Regions from separate parts of the Homo sapiens genome. Here region 2 is linked to region 1. Evidence: fine-mapped expression QTL. Tissue or cell type: whole blood. Region 1 holds a variant in brackets; the other region holds the start of a gene. All regions are shown on one strand. Distances are between the middles of the regions.

What was found. PIP is the estimated chance that this variant, and not a neighbour inherited with it, causes the effect.
Region 2: ZFP36L1 starts here. The variant in region 1 is fine-mapped to the expression of ZFP36L1 in whole blood (TOPMed, PIP above 0.99).

The regions. Positions count from the first base shown.
Region 1 is chr14:68,731,079-68,739,254 of GRCh38, reverse strand. LOC105370547 (a long non-coding RNA gene) reads right to left here. Exons shown (of 4, transcript XR_007064227.1): 2 at 6,875-8,176; 3 at 5,116-5,309; 4 at 2,084-2,767. It also overlaps the pseudogene RNU6-921P. Among named protein-coding and RNA genes, the nearest start is that of RAD51B-AS1, 50 kb to the right of the region's middle. RefSeq lists enhancers at 1,909-2,433, 2,434-2,960, 7,966-8,176. The variant C/A (reference allele first, on the strand shown) is at 4,782.
Region 2 is chr14:68,788,346-68,796,521 of GRCh38, reverse strand. It overlaps ZFP36L1 (ZFP36 ring finger protein like 1), which reads left to right and starts at 3,455. Exons shown (of 2, transcript NM_004926.4): 1 at 3,455-3,640; 2 at 6,030-8,176. The coding sequence starts at 3,584. The coding sequence ends at 6,989. RefSeq lists enhancers at 228-287, 1,468-1,627, 1,290-1,834, 5,922-6,537, 6,645-6,724 and 1 more and silencers at 408-727, 3,008-3,207, 3,228-3,297.

The DNA.
Region 1 (8,176 bases):
GTTGGCAGTTTTTCATCAGCATGTTTGAAGTCATTTGTTCCATAGTAATCAATAATTAGAAAACCACCTAATCCTTCTGTCATTAGCATGTAGATGTTGACCAGGAGAGAAGTCTCTAGTAGTGGGCTGCAGGCTCATTCCTATCCAACCTCTTTAATGACAATTTATAGGGAGCAACAAAAGCACCAAGAAAGGCAACAGGATTATTGGGAAAGTGTGGGTGTCATAAATTGAGATAAATAGGCATGACACTGGGGGATGGACAGGAAGCCTGAAAGATCTCAACCAGTTCAGAGGAACCTAATCCTTGCACTTAGCCTTTGAAATTCACATGGAAACGTGCTAGGTGAAGTAGGGGTTCTCTGGAGAAAGGAGGGGTTGATCCCCAGGCAAGAGGGCACAGGGTGGTTGAGATGGAGCTTGGAGGCACTGAAGGTAGGGCACAGAGGGATTGGAGGCGCTGAAGGCAGGGCACAGAGGGATTGGAAGCACTGAAGGTAGGGCACAGAGGGATTGGAGGCGCTGAAGGTAGGGTACAGAGGGATTGGAGGCACTGAAGGTGGGGCACAGAGGGAGAAGCAGGGTGACTTGAGATGGGCTGGTCAGTGGACAGGAACCTGTCAAACAGGGTCTCAAGGGCCAGGCTAGGAAAGCTGGTAAAAGGTGCTGGGACCCTCGGTCCATTTACCCTGCATCCTATCCCTCCAGAGCTCAGGAGCCGAATGGATCTGGCTCTTTAGCACCTTGGTTCATGAATTCTTTTGGAAGATCCTAAAATGAGACAGAACTAGTTAAGTCAAGACAGCTTTGAAACATACAACCCAAGAACACCAGGACCAGAGTGGCTGAGTTTCCCAGAAGTTCATTCTGTTGAGGTTCCAACGGGGCCTTCCCCACCATCCAGTCCACCTACAGTGCTGGGCATGCAGCATGCCAGGTGGCCCCACAGAAAGACCTTGCACTGGGGGTCCTCCTGCCTGCTTGTGAACAGTGACCCTAGCAGTGCTCATGGTTAATATTGTTGTATGTCCCCATAACAATAAATTCCTGAAAAGGCTGGGGTGGGAAGATCCCAGATGGATGTGACTTCCTGGGGCTACCACGTCTGAGCCTGGTGGGATATGAGCACTGTGGACACCTCTTTTTATGCAGGGTCTGGCCTGGAGTGCAGGGTCTGTGAAGCGAGAGGACCCTGCCAGGACCCGGCCTCTGAGTGGCTCAGTGGGAGGAGGGGCGCCCTGGGTGCTGGGGGTGCCTGGTGCAGGCCCCCACTTGGCCTTCTCAGTCCCTCTCAGAGTTTGCCAGAAAGTGACACCATAGTAGACTCAATCCTTCTTCAGACCTCAATCCTGGGGCTGCAGAAATAGCTAGAGATTGGCTGGGTAAGAAGGCGGTGGCTTATATGGAAAAAGAGGCCCCTTGGCAGCTGCCCCCTGTGTTTGTGGGACTGTGTCCTGCCTCCGTCCCTAATAAGTATGATCTGCATAAGCACTTTCACCTCTTGGAGTCTCAGTTTCCTTGTCTACAAAATGGGAATAGTACCTATTTCAGGAGATGACTGTGAGGATTGGATGAAGGTGATTTTATTAAAAGGGTATCTGGCATAAGCGGTTGCTGAGTGGCCACAGTCGTTTCTCTTCTACCTGTCCTGTGGACTCCAGCACCTGGGTGTTCATGACACGCATGCGCCCTCCCCTCTGGGCAGGGGAGCCGTGCACAGAGGCTTAAAGAGCCTCCCAGGGTGGCAGTCAGAGGTGAGAGAGGGCATCAGGCCCCAGTGGAGCTGGAAGGCTCAGCCTCTGTCTGGTAATCTCCCTCCTAAATTTCAGGGGACAGAAAAGGTCCTCCTGCTCTTTGCTTGGTGTCTCCCAAATCACCTTTCCTTCCTGACGCTGGAAAAACAAATTCACAAGCACAGGTGACAGCTGCAGAGGGGCCCCTCTTTCCATATAAGCCACTGCCTGCTTAGCCAGCCAATTGCTAGCTATTTCTGCAGCCCTGGATGGAGGCCTGGAGGAGGATGAAATCTGGCTATGGGGTTGCCTCTTGACCTTACACCCATGTTCACAATAACCACACAGTCTGCCTTTCAAAAGTTTATTTTCAGGGGAGTCACAGAACATCAGGTGGAGACCCCTAGGAAGAGGAAGCAGCTGGGGTGGGCTCCAGAGGGGTATGGGTCGGGGAATAACCTCAGAGAAGAATGAGCTGTGGAGTGGTGGCCTGGCACAGGCACCCCTGTACCCCTCACCTTCCCTTGTTTCCTGCAACATGGACACCATTCCACCGGCTCTCAGGGCCCACCCGGCTGACTACATCCTTGCCACTTGGCTTCCAGGCTGCTCGGGGCTGGAGGAGGGCAGAAATCCTGAGATACTGGGTCCTGGGAGGTTGGGGGTTGGGGCATGGGAAGGGACAGAGCCAGGCTGTGACAGAGGATAGAGGGCTTGAGTGACTGATAGAACGGGTCGGGTGGGGCAGCCCTGAGGAATTTCCCTCTGAGGAGAGGGGTTCTGAGCAGCAGCCTCACTGTCCAGGGCCCAGCGGTGAGGGAGGTGCAGCCTGAAGCTTGGATTCTGGCTGCGGAGGGCTTGTCGGGCTTGCTTGCTGAGGCCCAGGGCCTCTCTGGGAATGAAGGAATGCCTCTTGCTCTGGAACACCGAGGCCTGACAATTTTCTCTCTCAGCAACATTTACTTCTCTGTAAAACAGACTGTTGTAAGTTCCTCGGGGAGCTTGTTGGATTTGGTGCCTGAGTTCACAATCTCCTGGGGTGGACAGAAGGGTTTGGTAGAAGAATTAGGTGTGGAGACGGATAGGAGAGCAACGTGGAAGTTGGCTGGGAAAAGCCTGAGGTATTCAAGTCAGGAATATTAATACCTTAGGGTTCTCTCTCTCTGTCTCTGTCTCTGTCTCTCTCTCTCTCTGTGTCTCTCTGTGTGTGTGTGTGTGTGTGTCTCTCTCTCTCTGTGTGTGTGCGTGTGTGTCTCTCTCTCTCTGTGTGTGTCTCTCTCTCTGTCTCTGTCTCCCTCTCTCTCTCTCTGTCTGTCTCTCTGTCTCTCTCTGTTGGGGTGGGAGAGATCTCTAGCTCTTAGGATCATTGCCTGTCATGGCCTAACCCTATTCCCCACTCTATTTTTGTTAACATAATTACCGTTTCCTTTGTATGATTTTTTTTTTAACTTCAGCCCAATTCCAGGCCTCCTTGTTTAAAACAAAACAAAACAGTGCTCGCTTTGGCAGTGCATGTACTAAAATTGGAACAGTACAGAGAAGATTAGCATGGCCCCTGAGCAAGGATGACACGCAAATTTGTGAAGCATTCCATATTTTTTAAAATGAAAAAGTAATAAAACAAAACAAAACAAAGCTTTCAAAACTTAACATTTCTGTGGCGTCTTCCCTGAGTTAATGTAAACAGCCATGGCGATGGGTGCTGCCTGATGGTGAAGCTCCCCTGGACTTGGGTGGCCTTAGCAACCGTTCTGCAGGTATCTCTGGGACATTCTTTTTTTTTTCTTTTTTTTTTTGAGTTGGAGTCTCGCTCAGTTGCCCAGGATGGAGTGCAGTGGTGTGATCTCAGCTCACTGGAACCTCTGCCTCCCGGGTTCAAGTGATTCTCCTGCTTCAGCCTCCAGAGTAGCTAGGACTACAGGCATGCGCCACCATACCCAGCTAGTTTTTGTATTTTTAGTAGAGACAGGATTTCACCATGTTGGCCAGGCTGATCTCGAACTCCTGACCTCAAGTGATCTGCCTGCCTTGGCCTCCCAAAGTGCTGGGATTACAGGCGTGAGCCACCATACCTGGCCATCTCTGGGACATCCTTGAGCATCCCATATCTGTCTGCTGTTGTTTGGGCCTGTCATTCTGTGCTCAGTAGATATGGCAATGTGTCATCCAATAATTGATTCCTTACCAACTTTTTGGTTTTTTTCTGAGATGGACTTTTGCTCCGTCACCCAGACTGGAGTGCAGTGGTGTGATCACAGCACATTGCAGCCTCAACCTCCCAGGCTCAAGCGGTCCTCCTGTCTTAGCCACCCTAGTAGCTGGGACTAGAAACACACACTACCAAATCTGAGGACAAAAAAAATATTTTTGTAAATGCGGGGTGTCACTGTGTTGCCCAGGCTAGCCTTGAACAACTGGGCTCAAGCAGTCCTCTCGTCTCAGGCTCCTGAGGTGTTGGGATTATAGGCATGAGCCACCGAGCCCGGCCCCTTACCAACTTTAAGTTCTTCAGTTATCTCTTGGTCTTTTCCTCTGCAGATAAGTAATCTTAATTCCCATAATTAATTTTATAACCCAATCAACACAACTTCTTTTGAAATCACTGCATCCATCTCTCCTAATTTTTTAGAGTCTCCATTTTATAATGAGTGGCTAAGCCCTGAGTACCTAGAGACTGATGAAAAGATTGCATGGTTTATCTCTGCCTCTCTGCTTAGATTCCTGTTTAATAATCATTAAATCTCTCACGTGTCACTTCTATTTACAGTATACGGAGCACCACCATGTCTCTTATCTCAGGCCATCAGCCCTTCTTAGTGATCTTATTATTTCCACTGATTCAGGTTAAGCTTGGCCTACTGTGGGCTTTATTTAGATCATCTTTATTATACCTGTGGGTAGATTTTGCAAGCAGGCCCTAGCACAGGTTCACTTGTGGGTTTCCTTTTAAAAGGTCAGTGTGAAACAGGAAATGTGACTAAGAAAATCTTCTTCCTCCATGAAGCCTCACTTCATTAACTGGAAGAAAAGCTCCTATCCTGTCTCCCC[C/A]CAAACTTGCTCATGGCCCAGACACATTTCAAAACAGCACATATTTCCCAAAACACTGACACGTGCATTCTAAGGCTCGTGTGTGCGGTGAGTGGTTCTTTGTCAAGTTCGTTCTGTGAAGGGGCCCTGTCGTCACACCGATCACTGTTCTTCAGATATCTGAGGATGTGCAGGGGCCTGAGGGACCTGGAAACCTGGTGGCTGAGCAATGAGGAGAGTGGAACCCATGGTTGGAACAGTTGGCCATCCTCATGCGGATAGGGGCAGAGCCAGAATGGGAATCAAGGTCTCCTGACTCCCCGGCCACATTAACCCAAGTAAACCCCATGTCTACCTCCTTAGCTTCCGGAGTCCCCTGCATCTTCCTCCTTGTGGGACACAAGCCAGGTACAGTTGCAGGGTGGACATGTGGTTTCCAAACAGGATGCTGGGCAAATTAATCTGGGATTCCTGATTGGGGTTCTTTAGGAGGCAGTAGTGGCTACCCTTTAGATCATCTGGTTTGTGACCTTGTTTCAGTTTTCTCATCTATAAAATAGAAAAATAATAGTACTTATGATGAGGTAAAAATAAATGAATACACATAAAACACTTAGAACAGTCTTGCTGTGTGATCACTCCATAGCATTAGTGATTATTATTCTGGTGGGTTGGTTAGCTTTCCTCCATTCTATTCAGTTCAATGGGGGTTTGGCATCAACCACAGGCTTTGCCGGGGCTGTGAAAATGGCCACATTGAGGCTCCACCTTAACCCTGGCCAGCCTCCCAACAGCCAGCCATTTGTCTTAAGAAGAGCTGAAAGAAATAATCTAATGGCGCAATGCAAAGTCAACACTGATGGGGCTGAGGGGTGTCTTTTCGGACAAGACGTGCAGTGGGGAGCCCACCTGTGAGTTGGCCTGTTTCACGGCTGCGTGCGGTGCCCACTCCTCACAGACTCTGAGTGAGTGGCAAGGTGGGCCCGGAGTCAATTCTGGCTTGGCAATGGATACTGTTACTGAGGGCATGGGTTGAGGCACAGGAGCTTGGGGCTCCAGATGCTTGGAGTAAATGTGAAAAGGGAGTGTGGGATGATGTGAGTGGGAGCTGTGGATGGGTTCAAGCGTGCTGAGTCCTGGCTTGACTCACCCTTCCAGCTTCTGCTGTAACTGTCAGTGCCTTTGTCTGCATGCTGGGAAATCCCTGAGTGCTGGGTTAAACCCCAACCCTAAAAGGCACGTAGACACTTCTCCTGAGCTTTGAGTTGCTTCATTCTGCCCAGCAGCTTCCTGAAAATGTAGTCTTGCCACACCAGAGGAAGGATAGACCCATAGCTGTGGGGGACCCTGTGTCAGCAGGATTTACTACCGGGTGAGCTGGGGCTGCAACAGCACGTGTGAGCAACTTAACAGGGCTGATGGTTTTTCAACAAATTTTTAAAAATTAAAAAAAATTTTAAATTTTTGTCGGGACATAGTAGGTGTGTGTATTTATGGGGCATGAGAGATATTTTGATACACGCATACAATGTGTAGTAATTGCATCAGGGTAAATGGGGTATCCATCACTTAAAGCTTTTATCCTTTGTGTTACAGACAATCCAATTATACTCTTTTCGTTATTTTTAAATGTACAATTCAATCATTATTGACTATAGTCACCTTGTTGTGCTATCAAATATCAGATCTTATTCATTCTTTTCGCTCTTGTCTCCCAGGCTGGAGTGCAGTGGTTTGATCTTGGCTCACTGCAACCTCCGCCTCCCGGGTTCAGGAGATTCTCCTGCCTCAGCCTCCCAAGTAGCTGGAATTACAGGCGTGCACCATCATGCCTGGCTAATTTTTTTGTATATTTAGTAGAGATGGGGTTTCACCATGTTGGCCAGGCTGGTCTCAAACTCCTGACCTCAGGTGATCCGCCTGCCTCGGCCCCCCAAAATGCTGGGATTACAGGCGTGAGCCACTGTGCCTGGCCAAGATCTTATTCATTCTTTCTAACAATTTTTTTTGTAGTCATTAACAAGGCTGAAGTTTTAATGCAACTTACTTTTATTGCACATGCCATGCATTATGCACCAATCTGTGTTCTTCCAATGCTACCGGGAACCTCTTACCTTTGTATCAGTTCATCGTTGTCCTCTTCTCCAACTGCCTGTGTACCTGGGTCAGGGGTCCTCTTTTATCGAGTGGAACAAATGTGCCCAGGTACAGAGAAATGCTTTGTGCTATTGTCCACCAGGCAGGGGCATTTTCTTTTCTCAAATATTCTTGGTAAATAGACGAGCAGTCTTTACTTGAACGCACTGGGTGTCATATGCCACAGCCCTAACTTGAATGTGCTGGCTTGCTGCAAGTGGGTGATTCCTTAGAAATTTGCTCTGTTCCTAGACGGGATCAAAATGGTCCTTAGATTCTTAATGGGTCCCTATCTGGAATCCATTTGATCTTAAAATAAAATGGCCGTGGAAGAAATTTTTCATTAATTCCTAGCTGATTTGCAATGAAATTAAATTTCTGAGTATAAGGAATATTTTTTACGGAGTAAACTTATAAGTGGGGTTGCTGGGTGTTTCCCATTGATTAGCCTAGTGTTTAAAAGTATAATGTCTTTATTTTCTGGTTTCTTACTTTTTTGAGTTCCCTCACTTTTCTTCTAGAGTTCATTATGCAGGTCTGGAAAACAACAACCACCACCACCAGCAGGAGAAAAGCAGGGGTTAGTTTGGGGGGGGTTGAAATGGGAAAAATAGACATTTCCAGCTCCCAACATCTTATTTCCTGAATATCTTCGGAGCCCAAGAAAGTGGCTCTGAGCTGCCTTTGCAGTCTTGAAGCTGCACTTGCGTTCCCACCAGCCCCCGGGCCTCTGGTTGCATCCTGGGGGGCACTTCTGCACTCCCAGCCTCCTGGGTATGGATTGGGGTGAAGATGTTGTGCAGTGAGGGGTGGGAGCCCCACACCCTAATAGAGCCAAGCTGGCCACACTGCCTGTCTTTCCCAATTAGTTCCCCAAAGGGAACAAAGCCTTATTTCTTCCCTCCCTTAGTTCCCAGGCACTGGTTGGGGAAAAACAATCCTTGGCAGCTCAGGGGTTAAAAATAAAACACAGCGAGGGGGAAAACAAGCCGGGCAGCTGCAGCGGCTCCTCAGAGCCCACTCCAGGCTAAATAGAGGCCCCAGCAACTCCTTGGAGACTTGAACCCTGGGCGATGGAATTTTCCCTTGCATGAAGGCTATTGTCCTCTGGAAAGGGCCAGGGCCAGAGGAGGGCCTGGGGAGCACTGATCTCCCCAGCCCACAGCCAGGGAGCTCCTGAGAGCCCAAGGGCTCGGTCCCACCCAGCTGGGTTTGGGTGAAAAGGCAACGGGGGGTGCAGCCCACCCCTCCCCCTTTGGGAAAAAGGGAGGGCTTGGGCT
Region 2 (8,176 bases), 57 kb before region 1:
CCAAACTTTAAACAAGGGGACTCCAGGTGTCTCTCTCTCTTTCAACCTGAAGAATTTGGGGGATTTTGCAAATGACCTGAAGCCTGAGAGGAAGTGCAACACTGCAGGGCTCTCAGGAGGGGGTACCCTGCTGACGCCTGTGACTAGGCCTAACCTTCTGGGGTCCTGCGGCCCAGTGCTGCACACTGTCATCTGCCTTGAGGTGCGCCTGGGGTCCAGATTGGCCGATGAATACGTACACCCGCAGCGCCTCCTTCACTCCGAAGACTTTCACTTTCCCCCTTGCACAAAACCGAACATCCCACCCCACCACCACCTCCAAGCTAAAATACCTGGGCCGCCCCTCCCCACGAAGGGACGCGCTCCAGGCGAATGGGGAGGGCCCGGAAGTCGGGCCTGGGACAGAGGAGCCGGCCCACCGCCTCCCGGTCGGAAGCGGCAGTGCAGGTGAGGCGGCGGCCAGCCTGGGGACTGCGCGGGTAAGGAGCGGGAGGGCGGAATGCACCGCGAAGTTGGCGGGGGACGGCCACGCACGCCTCGCCTCGGCCTTCCTGCACCGTAGGGCCGCCCTCCCGCCACCCCTGGGCACCTGTCGACCACGTCTGGGCGAGGGCGGGTCGGCTCCCGCCCTCGGGCCCTCACCGCGGCGGGGACGCCGGGTCAGCGAAGGGTTAAGGGACTCGCTCCCTCCTCTCGGCTCCCTCACCCTTGGAAAGTCCCCGAAATGACGTTTCAACCCGACAATTTAAAAAAGAGTTTAATTATAGAGACAGGCTCTGGGAGCTGGAACAAACCCTTGGTCGGCGGGGCCGGTAAACAACTCGGGAGCGAGCGGGCTAGGCCAGTCGCAGCCTTGCGGAGCCCGCGCCCCCGGGGAGAGGGGGAGGGGAGGGCCTCCGGGAGTTGGAAAAGCCGAGGAAATTCGAGGAATCAGCTTTCTTTGGAAAAATCCACTTTGTAGCCATTCTGGGGCGCCTGATGGTGCTCCTGGCCGGTCCCGCAGCCTTGGAGGGAAAGCGGCGCCGCCCGAAGCAGGGGCATAGCCGGTGCCCCGCGGGGACAGGCCCTGGGCCGGGAAGGGGGCCCCGCCCGCTCCCAGTCCCCTTCCCCTTTGCTTTTTTCCAGCCCCTCCTCCGGTCCCCCCAGCTGAGCTTCGCGAACCCTCGGGAGTTAAAGACCAGCCGGCCTCTTTTTTGGGGGGGGTGGGGGGTGGGGGAGCGGGAATGGGTGGAGGCCGGGGGAATAAAAAACCGAAATAGCTTCACATCAGAACTCAGACTAACCTTGTGGTTTCAACGCGCACTCTGCTCTGTCCTGAAATCTGGAACTCATTACCTCATCACCAAGAAACTGCACGAAATCTCTCCCCCACCGCCCCAACACCCACTTGGGAAAGGAACGAGCAAACATCCCTCTAAGAAAGAAACCTACACTTGAATGATTTAAATTAAGGTGGATGGAAGTTATTTCCCTTTCTGGCGCTTGCCAGATTTCAAGAAAAGCTGAAAAATGGGAGCGGGGGAGGGAAGCAACAGACGGCTGGAGGGCAGCAGCAGAACAAGCGAGGGGCAGCAGCCGAGTTAAAGTGGGGGCCATCCATTTCGGGCAGAGGAGACAAATGAAAGCCGACCCCGCTGGGATCACGTAGGTTCGTGGCTGCAGCAAAAGTTGGGTTTCACAAAGTTGAAAAACAGCCGGTTTCTCAAACAATTGTGATTTGGAAGGTTTCGCTGGGTTTGCCCAGATGTTTACGAATAAATAAGAAATGCAGTTTTAAAAAAAAGTGTGTGTTGGGGGTGGTGAGAATGCGCTCTCTTCGGCCCGCCCCGTCCTTTCCAAAGAAACGTGCTCATAATGGGGTGACCTAATTACATCGCAATGGAACTCAATCTTAGCCACTCCGCAGCACCGGGTTTCATAACAGACTCGGCGGCCTCGAGTGCTGGGAAGAAACGTGCGAGGGCCGAGGGGGGCGGCGGAGCCCGCGTGGAAATCGGAAAGAAGCGCAGCCCTGCGACTTCCGCCTGGGTCATCACGCCAGCAGTCGGGCCAAGGCGCAGGGGGCGGGTGGGGGACTCGTTAACTTTTTATTTGGGTGGGCGGCATCCAAACCTAACAGTATATATTTTATCATTTTCAAGGGAGTCATGCTCCATTGCGGGCCCTTCGGTTTCGTGGCTCCCATGTCCCCCTCTCCACCTCCCGCCAAAACGGCGCAGCGTGACAAGCCATATGTTCCACTCCGGTGGGGGCGAGAGAGAAGCAACAATAAGTTAAAAGTGCCGCCTCCCTCCACCTCTTTACCTTCATTCTTACCAAAGTAACCTTTTTTCATTGTTCTAGAGTCTTGAGGTGTGTGTGGGGAGGATGGAGGAGGAGGGAGGGTTGTGGCGCCGCCCAGAATTCGGAGCGCGCGTGGAAAGTAGTGAGTTGCTCGGTGGGCTTTTTCTGGGAGGAAGGGGCATTCAGGAAGGATTAGGGTTTTCTTGACTAAAAAGTTTAAAGATTGGATGCGTGAAAAGAAACGGCACGCCTAGGCCTGGTAAAACAAACAATCGTCCCGGGTTGTGGTCTTTTTTTGCGGCGCCCCCCACCCGCCCACACCCGGAGAGCGCCGGCTGCAAAGCGAGCGCGAGTGTCGACGCGTGCGGCGCACTAAATTGTGCCGCGCTCGCCCCCGCCAGACCATGTCCTCCTGGGGAAAAAGTTTCCCTAGTCCCCCCAGCAGCGCGCCCCACCCTACGCCCCGCTGGAAAAAAAACAGCAACATAAAATCCTAGGCTTGAACATTCTGTGCGTCCCAAATTTCTAATGTCCTCGGCCTGCCCGGTTTGCCGAAGGGAGCCGAGTGTCGAAGAGAAGTCGGGAAAAGGTAAGTTGTGCAGACACTTGGGGAAGTTTCAAGGAGACCGCCAGCTCAAGATGGAAACCGCGGCCCGGGCGCTAAGGACGGGCTTCAGCTCCCGCTGGCAAAAAGAGAAAGTCGAGCCCGCCTTCCTGCCCAACAAAAAACAACAACATGACAACAAGAACCCCGGAGGGAGTGGAATGAGTGACGTCACAGCCGCGCTCTGAGGCTGACAAAGGAGGGGGCGCGCCCCTCCCGCTCTGCGCCCGCGCGGCCCCGGAGAGGGGGCGCCTGAAGCGCCGGGTAGGGAAGTCAGCCGACTTGAAACTTTTCCTCTTAAAGAAAAAAAAAAAAAAGTTGTGCGCGGCTCACAGTGGGGTTTTTTTTTTCCGCCTTCTTTTCTCGTCTCCCCTCCCCCTTCTTCCTTTTGAAAGTTTCTTCTCCTCCCCCTGCCCCCCCTCCCCGCCTGACCGCATGGCTGATTCAACTCCAGTGTCAATCAACTTCTTTTTCCTCCTCTTCCTCATTTAAATAAGTTTAAAGCTCCTCCTCCCCCCGGCCCACCAAATCTGAACTTTATAAATTGGGCTTTGCGCGCCCCAGCCCGGAGTCAGAAAGGCGAGGGGCGCCGGGAACTGGCGTGTGGGACTCCAGACAGGAGAGGCTGCGCCTTCCCCGCACCGGGACCTTCGCGACACACCAGATCCTCGCCCCTGGCTCGCGCGAACGCACAGGATGACCACCACCCTCGTGTCTGCCACCATCTTCGACTTGAGCGAAGTTTTATGCAAGGTAAAGGGGGGCGGAGCATTTGCTTTTCAAAAAGTCTTTTTCTTTTGCCTTAAGAAAGAACCCCCAAAAGTTTGGGTCTTGGAAGGCAATGGGGAAAGTGGTGCAGCGAGATGATTCTTTTCTCCTCCGGCATTTCTCCCAAGTTTGAAGGAATTTGGCCCCGTCCTTCCCACCCTTTGAGTTTCAACAGTTGCTGGCGGGGATTACATGTGAATCTGGAGGCCAGGGTTTTGAGGGGCGAAGTTTGCCTGGCAGGGCAGCCCGGGGGCTTCGGGGGGAGGGCTGGGATTGGGACAAGTTTTGGGCGATCCTGTTTTACGTAACGTGCTGCTGGATCCCAGGTTTGCTGGTCTGATCGGGTTCCCAGTCTGCGCCCTAGGTCTGTCCAGCGGCATTACCCACCCGTGGGGTTGGGAGTGGGAGGTCCCTCGGGGAAGTGAGTCTCGGGACAATGTTTTCCTCCACTCTTTGGGGGGAGCTGGGGATATGCGAGGAAGAAAGGCCAAGTTGTGATTCAAAAAGATGTTGCAGAACAAGTTTGCAGTGGGGCTTGAGTCCGCCCTAGCTCCGTTGGGCTTCTTCCCGCGATAGCCGATCGTGCAGCAAACTTTGGGGTGAAAGAGGCATTCAGGTTGACCCGCTTACCTGTGTTGCCGAGGCATTGCGGCTCATCGATTGCGGGCGGGGTTGGGGGGGGAGGTGGCGACAAAATGCTGGCTTGAACTCGAGAGTCCCGCGAGTAAGGATTTAATGGGGGGCTCCTTAAAACATGTTGCTTGTCAGCCAGTGTTGAAAAAGCAAGTTTTAAACTCGGAATGTTCCAGGACTGCGGTTTAAATGTACATAGCAAAAGTCTATGGATGTTGTTAAATTTCTTTCCAACCTCCCCCTCCCAATTTGAAAGGGTGAAGCTGCTGGGCTACTTTTTAATTGCTGAAGTGTTTTGCCTTCTCTTAACACGTCGGGTCATGTTGCTCTGTTTTCCCAGCTTGCTGCTCCTGTTGGTGCAGCTGCCAACGCCCCAGGGCTGCAGGGTTGGGGTGCAGGGACGCCGAGGAGCTGAAGAGTAGCATTTAAAAAGTTTGAATTTTTCAGCTTCCTTCCCTCCCTGCACATTCCCAAACTCCACTTGCCAGCCCGGCTGCCAGCGCTCCCCAACATTTCTTCCTTCTTTTCTCGACTCTCCCGCTCTTTGATCTATTTCTTTCTTTGGCCCCCCTCCCCCCTCACGACTTTTTAAATGAACCTCATTGTTGGGAACCAGCTCTCGACTGGGTTCCTGTAATCCTCTCGGTGGGGTGGTTGCAGTTACAGATTCCCGGTCCCCCCCTGCTGATCCTAAGGGACCAACATTAGAATTTGCACAATGACACCCACATGGGCTGGGAACTAACTCCTAGGTCCCTGACCTGCACCATTTCCAAATCTTGGGTACAATTTGGGCAGGTGACCAGGGTCCTATTGGAACAGAAACCTGCCATTGGTGGCTCTGCCCCCATCCCCACCACCCCCAATCCGCTATTGACTAGGAGGTGGGTAGGGGGGTTGGTGCTTTCCTTTTCCTTTCCATCTGCAGCTTTGCGTTAAAGATTAAACACTGGAGCTCTTATCCAAGCTTGCTCTTGCAGCCAAAAGACTAATTGCAAAGGCATCTTCTCAGTGAAGGGGGCGGGGTGGGCTAGGGCTGAGTGGAAATGGTGAGAGAGATTATTGTAGAAAATATCTCTTCCGGGAACTTAGGGCAAAGAGTTTTATTTTCAGGAATCACATCCCTGTCTCCCCCAACCTCAGACCAGGCCCCCAATCTCCTCCCCACAAGAAAAAGCAAAGGCAGTCTGAAAACCTGTTGCCAAAGGAAGGGAACACTTCTGAAGGAGGAAGTTGAGAGTCTTAGGCCAGGTCTTGAAGGAGGGGGTATCAATTAAGCAGAGACTGATTGGAAGGGGACCTAACGTAGCCTATGATAGACTCCTTTCTGAGGTTTACCTGTTTTTGTCGCGGGCGGTGGCGGGGGCGGGGTGCGGTAATCTAGAGAGGTCTGGGTTGTGTGAGATATTTTGAGTTGAAGAATCTATTTGACTAGTAAAAAAGTTGAACTTTAAAGTGGTAGCTTTGGGGACAGAGGACATGGGGGTTGCATTGCAGGAGTCAGCATGGAGCAGGGTGCTTGTCACACAGTTTGGATCTTGTGGTTTCTTACGCATGGGGCCAAAATAAACCCAGGTGAATGGCCTATGGGAGGGAGAGAGGGAAGGGAGCTTGCTAGAGCCGAGGTAGAGATGAGTTCTTTGAGAAAGAGCGGGCGTTTGTGATTGTGTAGGGGGCTGCCCATAGTGGACATCCTGGTGGATGTCCTCTGTCCTTACCATCCTTTCTCTTCTCTCTCCAGGGTAACAAGATGCTCAACTATAGTGCTCCCAGTGCAGGGGGTTGCCTGCTGGACAGAAAGGCAGTGGGCACCCCTGCTGGTGGGGGCTTCCCTCGGAGGCACTCAGTCACCCTGCCCAGCTCCAAGTTCCACCAGAACCAGCTCCTCAGCAGCCTCAAGGGTGAGCCAGCCCCCGCTCTGAGCTCGCGAGACAGCCGCTTCCGAGACCGCTCCTTCTCGGAAGGGGGCGAGCGGCTGCTGCCCACCCAGAAGCAGCCCGGGGGCGGCCAGGTCAACTCCAGCCGCTACAAGACGGAGCTGTGCCGCCCCTTTGAGGAAAACGGTGCCTGTAAGTACGGGGACAAGTGCCAGTTCGCACACGGCATCCACGAGCTCCGCAGCCTGACCCGCCACCCCAAGTACAAGACGGAGCTGTGCCGCACCTTCCACACCATCGGCTTTTGCCCCTACGGGCCCCGCTGCCACTTCATCCACAACGCTGAAGAGCGCCGTGCCCTGGCCGGGGCCCGGGACCTCTCCGCTGACCGTCCCCGCCTCCAGCATAGCTTTAGCTTTGCTGGGTTTCCCAGTGCCGCTGCCACCGCCGCTGCCACCGGGCTGCTGGACAGCCCCACGTCCATCACCCCACCCCCTATTCTGAGCGCCGATGACCTCCTGGGCTCACCTACCCTGCCCGATGGCACCAATAACCCTTTTGCCTTCTCCAGCCAGGAGCTGGCAAGCCTCTTTGCCCCTAGCATGGGGCTGCCCGGGGGTGGCTCCCCGACCACCTTCCTCTTCCGGCCCATGTCCGAGTCCCCTCACATGTTTGACTCTCCCCCCAGCCCTCAGGATTCTCTCTCGGACCAGGAGGGCTACCTGAGCAGCTCCAGCAGCAGCCACAGTGGCTCAGACTCCCCGACCTTGGACAACTCAAGACGCCTGCCCATCTTCAGCAGACTTTCCATCTCAGATGACTAAGCCAGGGTAGGGAGGGACCTCCTGCCTACTCCAGCCCCTACCCTGCACCCACATCCCATACCCTCTTCTCCCTACCCATCCCATTCCCCACAGGCCCTACATTAACAAGGTTAAGCTCAACCCCTTTCCCCCAGCACCTCAGAATGTGCCCTCCCTCTCCCCCTCATAACCCCACCTAACATAAGGACAAGTCAATTTGTCAGTAGCTTCTTCTGGCTTGAAACCCCCTCCCTGGATTTTATAGCCCACTTACCATGCATAACAGACAAGTCCCATATTTTGTCAGTAGATGCCTTTTTTTTTCCGGCTTAAGCCTTAAGTGCCAAATCACAAGAGAAAAAGCAGTAACAGTTTACAGAAGCAACTTAGTGCCTTGTAATCTAACTTTGTCACTGTGACTACATTACCTCTTCAGCGCCAGAGGGCACCCGTGGGCCTCCCGGAGCCTCTGCCCATGGCGGGGTGGAGACCCGGAACCAGCAGCCCCCTCCACTGGCGACACAACTGCACCTTCCCTCATTTCAGTCTCCCGCACACTTATTCCTCCTCCCCTCTTCCCGGTGGCACCTCTCCACCTGTACCCGCCCCCCCACCCCCCCCACCCCTGCCCCTTGGAAGAGTTGTTGCCAGACCAGGGTTTTGGGGGAAACCTGTCTTGACATTCAAAACCTTTTTCTTCCCGATCTGAACCCCTGTTGACTAATCTTGCCTGGGTTTGTGTAGGTCTGCAGGAAGGAAGGCTGAAAAAGCGGACGAAGATTTTGACTTAAGTGGGACTTTGTGATTTAATTTTTTCTTTTTTTTAAGTGGGGAGGAAGGGGAAGCTAGATGGACTAGGAGAGACTTGATTTTGGTGCTAAAGTTCCCCAGTTCATATGTGACATCTTTTTAAAAAAAATAACAACAAAAAAAAAATGAGAGAAAAGCTAAAAAAAAAAAAGTAAGGGGTGAGCAGTTAATGGTATTCATTCCACATACAATATCTGTGTAAAACGATTTCCTGTAGAAGTAGCTTTAATGGTTTTTGCTCTAGAATACCGTAGGTCTATCCTTAGAGCACTCACGCCATGCTTTCTTCCCTGGGTTTTAAACTTCATATAACTTTCAGAAATTGGAGAGCAAAAATTTTGCTTGTCACTGCACATCAATATAAAAAAGCTTATTTAACTTATCAAAACGTATTTATT